2 separate regions of the Homo sapiens genome follow, and region 1 is linked to region 2. Evidence: fine-mapped expression QTL. A gene starts in region 2. The other region holds a variant in brackets. All regions are shown on one strand. Distances are between the middles of the regions.

The links. PIP is the estimated chance that this variant, and not a neighbour inherited with it, causes the effect.
Region 1: its variant is the best candidate, but not a certain one, in a credible set for the expression of MCFD2-AS1 in minor salivary gland (GTEx, PIP 0.78).

What each region holds. Positions count from the first base shown.
Region 1 is chr2:46,277,833-46,282,235 of GRCh38, forward strand. The region is part of intron 2 of LOC101926974 (a long non-coding RNA gene); the gene reads left to right. Among named protein-coding and RNA genes, the nearest start is that of EPAS1, 17 kb to the right of the region's middle. The variant T/C (reference allele first, on the strand shown) is at 2,511.
Region 2 is chr2:46,897,182-46,901,584 of GRCh38, forward strand. MCFD2-AS1 (MCFD2 antisense RNA 1) reads left to right here and starts at 2,094. Exons shown (of 2, transcript NR_199007.1): 1 at 2,094-2,133.

The sequences.
Region 1 (4,403 bases), 620 kb before region 2:
ACACAAAGAGTGTGCTGGGCTGGTGGATTGGCCACCACTCAGCCCCCAAGGCCTGCCCAGTCTTTCCTTGAAAGTCCTTCGCCACTGGTCCTTTTCTTCCCATTCCCACCTCCACAGTCCTAATCCATGCCCCTGGCATCTCATCTGGATGGCATGAATGTCTCTGACTCACCACCTTGTCTCCAGTCCCTACCAGTTCCTACTGTCTCCTGCCAATGTTTAGAATCACCTTCAGATACCTCTTTTCAAAGTCACCTCTTTGTTTGGAAATGTGCAGCAGATGCCTCTCATTGTCCAAAGGACAAAGTCTGGACACTCAAACCTGGCATTCTTAGTCCTTTGCAAACTGACCCCAACTCTCTTGTGTGTACTTTTCCCTACTTCTCCCCTTCACCAGCCTCCTTCCAACAGTCTACACACTGTCCCTCAAATGTCCCAGCTCTGTGCTTTACCCGTCCTGAAAGCCTTTCCCAATCCTCTGTGGCAGTCCAGCCCTAACAATCCTTCTGCACTCCCAGACAGTCCTGGCTCAAGCCATGTCTGAGCTCTGTGTCCTTTGTGCATATACCTCTACAACAGTTATTTGATAACCAATTGGATGGTCAATCTTGAAAACTTTTAAGGTCCCTTCAGTCCTGCAGTTCTATGCTACCATATGTTTTTGCTGTTATTTTTCACAAGTCTGTCTTAGTTCTCCATTTACAGAGTAAGAAACCTGAGGACCAGACCTTGCCTCATATTGGTCTGCATCTTCTGTGATATAGTAGTGCCTGGCACAGGGTAGGAGCCTCAATATGGGTTTACTAATGGAAGATTCCAGACCCCCATCTGCAGGTATGGCCATTCTCAGTAGTTCCCTGTTCAGTTCCCTTATGCAGGGGCTCTCACATACTTGCCTTCTGAAGGGGAGCTGATAAATATATACATATCAATACGTACATATTAATATATTTGTCCTCCAAAGGGAATCTGCATTGTGAAAGGTATCTAGAAAGAACATTCAGCTTTAGTGGTGGGATGCCAGTTACCAGTGAAGGCAAAATGCTTGGCATAGGAACCTTCCTTGGAGCCATCTCCCTACCTTCTTTCCCTGGATGTTCTGCCAGCTCTAGACTGGGGGGATAGAAAGAGGAGAAAAAAACCATTTACAAGGAAACTCCCTCTCACTCCTTCACTCTGTGCAAACTTTACCTCCCTAGATGTCATCCTGAGAAGAAACCCTGAATATGGGTTGTCAGGGTGAAGGGAAGGAGGGGTCGTCCCTATTCCTCCATCACTAGTCAGCAAGGCTGCCTGAGCTCCAGCTGGCACCATGCCCTGAAGGAAGGAGCTAGCTCAGTCCTCCTGGGCCAACAGACCTGCTGGGAAGAGAAATGTTACTCGAGTAAAGGAGAGTGAGACAGACTGTCAATGGCACATAGGGTTCAGAGCAAGAAAGATGTGTGCGGGAAAGAAGAGGGAGGGAGAAACAAACCTGCATTTATTTGAGCATCTGTTATGTGCCAGGCACTGTGCTGGTCACATTCATCATCTAATGTTCTCAACGATCTTGATAACTGTCCTTAGCTCCATTCTCCGATATAGAAGTTCATTTCTTCTCAGACCGTTTCTCTATTGTTCTTTTTTCTGTTTTTTTAATAAGCTCATGAAGTATTGATAGTCATTATAGATATGGCATATAAAAGAATATAAAAGTGTATGGAAGAAAATAAAAATCACATATAATCCCATGCCCAAGATAAATCATTGCTAGCATTTAAGTGTGTGCATTCCTAGTTTTAAAATTCATTTTAAACATATATTTAAAATATGTATATACAATTTTCTGTTCTTCTTTTAATGACCTTTATAACAAAAATTTTCCATGTCATTAAAATTTCTTTTTTTTTTCTTTTTTTTAAATTTTTTTTATTTGATTATTATTACGCTTTAAGTTTTAGGGTACATGTGCACAACGTGCAGGTTAGTTACATATGTATACATGTGCCATGCTGGTGTGCTGCACCCATTAACTCGTCATTTAGCATTAGGTATATCTCCTAAAGCTATCCCTCCCCCCTCCCCCCACCCCACAACAGTCCCCAGAGTGTGATGGTCCCCTTCCTGTGTCCATGTGTTCTCATTGTTCAATTCCCACCTATGAGTGAGAATATGCGGTGTTTGGTTTTTTCTTCTTGCGATAGTTTACTGAGAATGATGATTTCCAATTTCATCCATGTCCCTACAAATGACATGAACTCATCATTTTTTATGGCTGCATAGTATTCCATGGTGTATATGTGCCACATTTTCTTAATCCAGTCTATCGTTGTTGGACATTTGGGTTGGTTCCAAGTCTTTGCTATTGTGAATAGTGCCGCAATAAACATACGTGTGCATGTGTCTTTATAGCAGCATGATTTATAGTCCTTTGGGTATATACCCAGTAATGGGATGGCTGGCTCAAATGGTATTTCTAGTTCTAGATCCCTGAGGAATCGCCACACTGACTTCCACAAGGGTTGAACTAG[T/C]TTACAGTCCCACCAACAGTGTAAAAGTGTTCCTATTTCTCCACATCCTCGCCAGCACCTGTTGTTTCCTGACTTTTTAATGATTGCCATTCTAACTAAAAAACATCTTTAGTGCATTCACAGTGTCCCATTATGTGGTGATACAACAAGTTTCTTAGCTGTTCTCCAACTGCTAGATACCTGTTTTCCTATTTTTTAAATTATAAGTAATGGTTTAATCACCATTGAGTCTTGGCTCTTTATACCAACATGTTTCACTGAATTTCTGATTTTTTAAACATATTTGAAGAAGAGGAATTACTGGGTCAAACAGTGTTATTGTGATTTTAAATAGTAGTTTATTTTCACATTTTAAAAGTAATGCTTCTTTACTGTGAAAAGCTTAGAAAATATAAGAAAACGTCATGTATGACCTTTCAAATTACTATTATTAACCTTTTGGGGTGTTTCTCAGTCTATTTTCTAATATATAAGCATAAATATAGCAGCATAAAATTGAGATTATATATTATGTACGTTATTTCCTGCTTATCAGCAAACATTGTATTGTAATCACTATATCATCAATCTATGAAAATATTTTTATTAGCTGTAAAATTCCACTTTAAGAATGCATTATAACCAATTTAAACATTCTTTTACTCATGGCCATTTAGATTTTTTTCCAAAAATTTCCTGTTAATAACTCTGTGATGAACATCTGAACATCTGTGAATATTAATCTTTGACCTCATCTCTGATTATATCCTTCAAACAGATTCCTAGAAGCGAAATTACTAGGTCAAAATGCATGAGCATTGTTAAAGCTGTTGGTACATATTGCCAAATTGTGTTCCAAAAAGCATTCCTAATAACCAAGTGGAGGTTGTCCATCTTATCACACCCTTGTCAATACTGATTATTATAGATTAAAAACTATAGTAGTTTTTCATAAGTGAAACGTGCCTCATTTCTTTAATTTTCACTTTTATTATTAGGGATGTTAAACATGTCTTAAAACGTTATTAGCTACATGTATTTCATCTTTTGGAATTATCTGTTTGTGACTCTTATCTACTTATTGTTTTTGTCTTATATTTCTTTTCAAAATTTATTTATTTATTTAATTTTTTGTGACATGGTCTCACTCTGTTGCTAAGTCTGGAGTGTAGTGGTGTGAGCTTGGCTCACTGCAGCCTTCACTACTTGAGCTCAAATAATGCTCCCACCTCAGCCTCCTGAGTAGCTGGGACTATCACCACACCTGGCTAATTTTGGGGTTTAGAGACAGGATTTTGCTATGTTGCCCACGCGGGTCTCGAACTCCTGGGCTCAAGCAATCTGCCTGCCTCAACCTCCCAAAGTGCTGGGATTACAGGCGTTAGCCACCACACCTGGCCCTTAGTATACTTCTTGTTGTTTTAGATGAACTCTTTATATTTTAAGGATGTTAACTCAATGCCTGTTATATTCATTATTGAAGAATTGTCCAAAAAAAGAAGAAAATAGCATCATTTTTATAGAAATGGAAGCCAAGACTCAATGAGGAAAGTGAATTATCTAAGGTCAGCCAACTGGCAAGTGGCCTAGCTGGGATTTGAACTCAGGTATGACTGGCTCCAGGGCTCTTCATCAGAAAAAATAATAAGACAATAACAGTAGCTGTGGAAGCCTTAGTGGTAGAACTTGAGTATGTTCTGTGGGATGACTAGAGGTCAGCTGTTGGAGGGGTTGGGGACACATATGGGGAAGGAGAAGGAACAAGGTGCTGTGGACTTGGGAGCCAGAAAAGGACCTGGCTTGGTGCCAGCTATGCATCTTTCTACCCATTGCCTCCAAGCTGAGGTACATGCTCTTGGCACCCCTCATCCCTTCACAACCCTTCAGAGGATTGCCTCCAGCTACTTACCCACG
Region 2 (4,403 bases):
ACTCCAGAGCCTAGACGAAAGAAGTTACATGGCAAACACACAATAAATATCCAATGAATGAATCAACAAATAAACAAACACACAACTGAATAAAATGGTAGATATATATAGTGCTGGTGTATACAGCACTAATGTGACCAGAAATTTAAAAGCACTAATATCTCGTTGCTCTATGTTTAGGGAAACACTTGTTGGTATATGCTATGAGTCTAGCTAAAGGAAATAGCCTCTTTATATACAATGTGAATGAAGTTTTAATTAGAGTAACTCTTTGGGACAGCAATTTAGCAATATTGACCAAGGTTTAAAATTGCTCAAACCTCAGTAACTCAATTTCCTCAAAAAATAATGGTAAAAATAGAAAAGGTTTTATGCATGAGCATGCCTTTGATAAAACAAACAAACATACAATTGTATAAATATCACGATTACAAGTATGTAAGAAACAAACAAAATAGAAACAGGAAAAAAACATCAAAAGGAGATAGACCGTAATACAATGGCTATATTGGACAATTGGATTGTATTTTCATCCCTCCTCTATTCCGTATTTTCAAATGATCTTTAATGAAAGTTTTTTTTATAATAAAACACCAGCATTTTATTCCTGTAGCACCAAGAGTGACAGAGTGAATTACAGTTGTGTAGTCAAGCACAGAGTGGGAAAAGATGTCACATTTATACATTTTAAAGAGCATTACTGTAAAAATCAATTACATTTGACATAGAAACTCCCCTCCCTTGAGTTCCCCTGCTAAATGTTCATCCTCACACAATATCCTGTAGACTTTCCCAGTCCTGTTCCCATCTGCAATTCAGCACTCTGGTGCCATCGAATCCTGGGCACAGACCAGAACATGGCTGACCTTCCCGTTTGCCTCCCATCTCATCTCTCATGCGCCTTCTTGGCATATTTCTATTCTCTCTTCCTGGCTATAGGACTTGGGTGGGTGACTTAATTTTTGTAGGCAGACCTTCCCACTTGCTCAGGAAGCATCCCCCTGAAGGGATCTGGCAGTCTCCTGGCTGCAAAGCAGGCACTCCTCCCTACTAAGGAATGCCTGGGGTGAGGGGAAGCAACCCCAGTGCAGATGCTTTGGGTTAAGAAGTAGAGAGGTGTAGATCGGCTCAAATGGCCCTTGCATAGCTGAATAATTTTTGTTTTCCTAAAATGGTTTTAGATGGGATCGTGTCTGAAAACCAGTCTTTGTTCCTGGGAGGTAAGTTTGAGTGATTCCCGGCAGTCAGGGGGCAAAACTGGATGATGATGTGCTGTCAGAAAGAATAGGGAACACAGCTTCCCCACTTGTTGATGGTGGGGGCACAGGCGAGAATACGGTGCCCACGGCCCTCTGGACTGTTCTGCTGAAGGCCCGAGCCTTCCAATACAGTATAATAATGGCCTCAGCAGAGCCATGGAGCCAGAATACCAGATAGCGGCGAGGAAGGAGATTTCTCTGAAAGAAGCAAATAGTCCATTGCCAATCATGCTATGGCATCCCGTGCAGCAGCTCCCCACCCGCCTCTTCCGGTAATTGTACCTGGATTTCCTTCTCTGAAATGCCTCCTCCCCACTGTCAATCATTTTATTACCAGTGGGGCTCCAGCCCCTCACCCAGGATGCAGCACATAACCAAGGCCTGAGCCAACTGGCCCATGTGGCATGGCCCTGGCCTCAGTGATTTGTCCAGGGGTGGACTGGGAATAATAATGCTGGCTGTCACTGAAAAAGTGCTTCCTCTATCCCGGCTTCGTTGTTAGGATTTTACCATGTTAACTCAATTAACCCTCACAGTGACCAGATGAGGTGATACCATCATTATTATCCCTATTGTCATATGAGGAAACTGAGGCACAAAGGCACTAAGTAGCATGCCCAAGCGACAGAGCTCATAAGTGGCAAAACCAGGACTGATACCAAGACAGTCTGACGCCAGAGTTCATTCTCTTAGCACTATGCCATAGAGCCTTCTAGGTCAGCCGTGGCACAGGTGTGTGGCATAGGTGTGCCGTGATAGGCTTTTTCCTGAAGCTGAGGCGCATGCTCTGGAGCGGGCGCCGCCATCTTGCCCCTACGCGGAGCCGGAGAATGCAGATCTGAAGATGGGGAGGAGAGCAGAGCGTGGTGGCACGGTGAGCTCTAGACTTGGTCTGGTCTGAAGCCAGTTCATTATTTGGCAAAAAAATTATTACGTTCCCACCTTCTGGACCCGTTTGTTTCTCATTCCAGGTTGAGTTGGTTTTGGTTACTCTCCTCCCCGTATCGCATTTTGTCTTTTCTTCCTAATAACTCCTATTGATTGGATATTAAATGTCCACGATAGATCCTCTTATTTTCTCATCCATTCTCTGTTATCACTTATCTATTTGTCTTTCTGTTCTGCTTTCTGGGAGATTTCCCTGAGCTTATGGTTTAACCCTTTTAAGAAAAAGCATGGGGGAGGGGTATCATCATTTTTATTTTTAGATTCTCTTTTCCAGTTGTTCCTTGTTTTATTGGCATCTGAATGTTGTTCATGGATGTGATGAAGTCCTACTTCTCTGAGGATACTGATTATAATTTTTAAAAGTTATCTTCTAGTCCCTGCATTATCTCCTTGATGTTTCCTTTCTGTTTGTTTTGATTTCTGCTTCACCTTAAAGCTTTCCTTCAGGCTGGGTGCGGTGCCTCACGCTTGTAATCCCAGCACTTTGGGAGGCCGAGGTGAGCGGATCATGAGGTCAGGAGTTTGAGACCAGCCTGGCCAACACAGTGAAAACCCGTCTCTACTAAAAATACAAAAATTAGCTGGGCATGGTGGCAGGCGCCTGTAATACCAGCTACTCGGGAGACTGAGGCAGGAGAATCGCTTGAACCCGGGAGACGGAGGTTGCAGTGAGCCGAGATTGTGCCATTGCACTCCAGCCTGAGCGACAGTTAGACTCTAAAAAAAAAAACCAAACAAACAAAAAATGCTTTCCTTCAGCTGTCTTATGATTCTAAAGAATCCATTTAGATTTAAGTGTGAGACACTAGAAAGCTGATCTGATGCTATCGGGGCATGGAAGGGCTCAGTTTGGTGGCTTCTCTGCTGGGGGAGGAGGCCAGCCAGATTTTTCATAGGAACTCCTAAATGTCAGGACTTGAAGATCCTTTCCCTGGGGGCAGTTCAGTTTCTCTAGAAAAAGAACATTTAACCTCATTCCTAGGGCGTGCGAACCTGGCTGCTGTGATCACATGTAGTTCATTGCTGTTCTGTTTTCACCATGGTCTCTCATTCCCGCTCTCTTTTGCTTGGTATTTCCAAGCTGAGAGTTTCTCTGGCTCACTTTCTTCAGAGACAGAGAAGTCACCTGTCAGACGAGGTGAACCACAAACCCCTTTGGTCTGGCTCCTATGTCAATACTTTTGTGTTGTTCATTGTACTTGCCGTGACCCTTAGTTCCTCCTTGAGAGAAGTCACTCATTAATTCATCCATTCATTCACTCAGCATTTATATGGAAGAATGTAAGAAGCTGAGAAGCCCCTTTGAACCTTGCCCCTAAAGAGTCATCAATTTCTTCAAAGCCCCTCCATCCCCTAGTTTGCAATGAGGAAGGGGCTCAGGCTCTTCAGCCAGGCTGGGGAACAGATGACTGTTTATTTAGCACCTACTCTGTGCCAGGCACAGCACTAGGTGCTTTATCTACTTTCTCTCATTTTGCTAATCCTGTTAATCCTCTGCAGGTAACTGTTATTATAGTTATATTTTAGATGAGAAACTGAAGTATAGAAACTTCAATGCTAAGAAACAGGCCTAGGATTTCAACTCAGGCATGCCTGAGTCCAAAGCTTGTGCTCTTTCTTCATATAAGGCTGCTTCTGCTGGATATACTTACCTCCATTTTAGAGAAAAGGAAACTGGGGTGCAGCGATGTTCCTTATACATTCTGAAGAATTCTTGAGGCAGGCTGCAAGAAGCCAAGGCCTCATGTGTGGGAGATAGAGGGCATATGCAGGGAAGGGCCCATCATGCTGTGTCCCTGATGTCCCAGGAAACTCTCCCATCAGGAGAATTTTTTATAAGGAAGGGCAGGCAAGGACCACAAAGGCCAGCATGGAATAGTTACTAACAGCAGCCAGCTGTGGAGAAGGAAGGTGTTCCAGCCTTGTCTGTTTGATGGGGTGATTCCACTATCTGAGGATCTGCTTCTCTCCCTCTCCCAGCTGCCAACAACTGGGAGCCCATTCACTAGATCCATCCAGAGGGGTAGTTCTGGATGAAGAAGGGTCAGTGCAAGGTCCGAGGGTCTCAGAGGGTACGGAGGGAGGCAATGATAATTTCCTTTTAAAAGGCAGAAAAAAGTGTGTCTTCTCAAAATGCCAGGGGAGACTTTTTTTGCTTGGGTCTGGTATGTTTTCAATAATGCTATCAAATTAAAA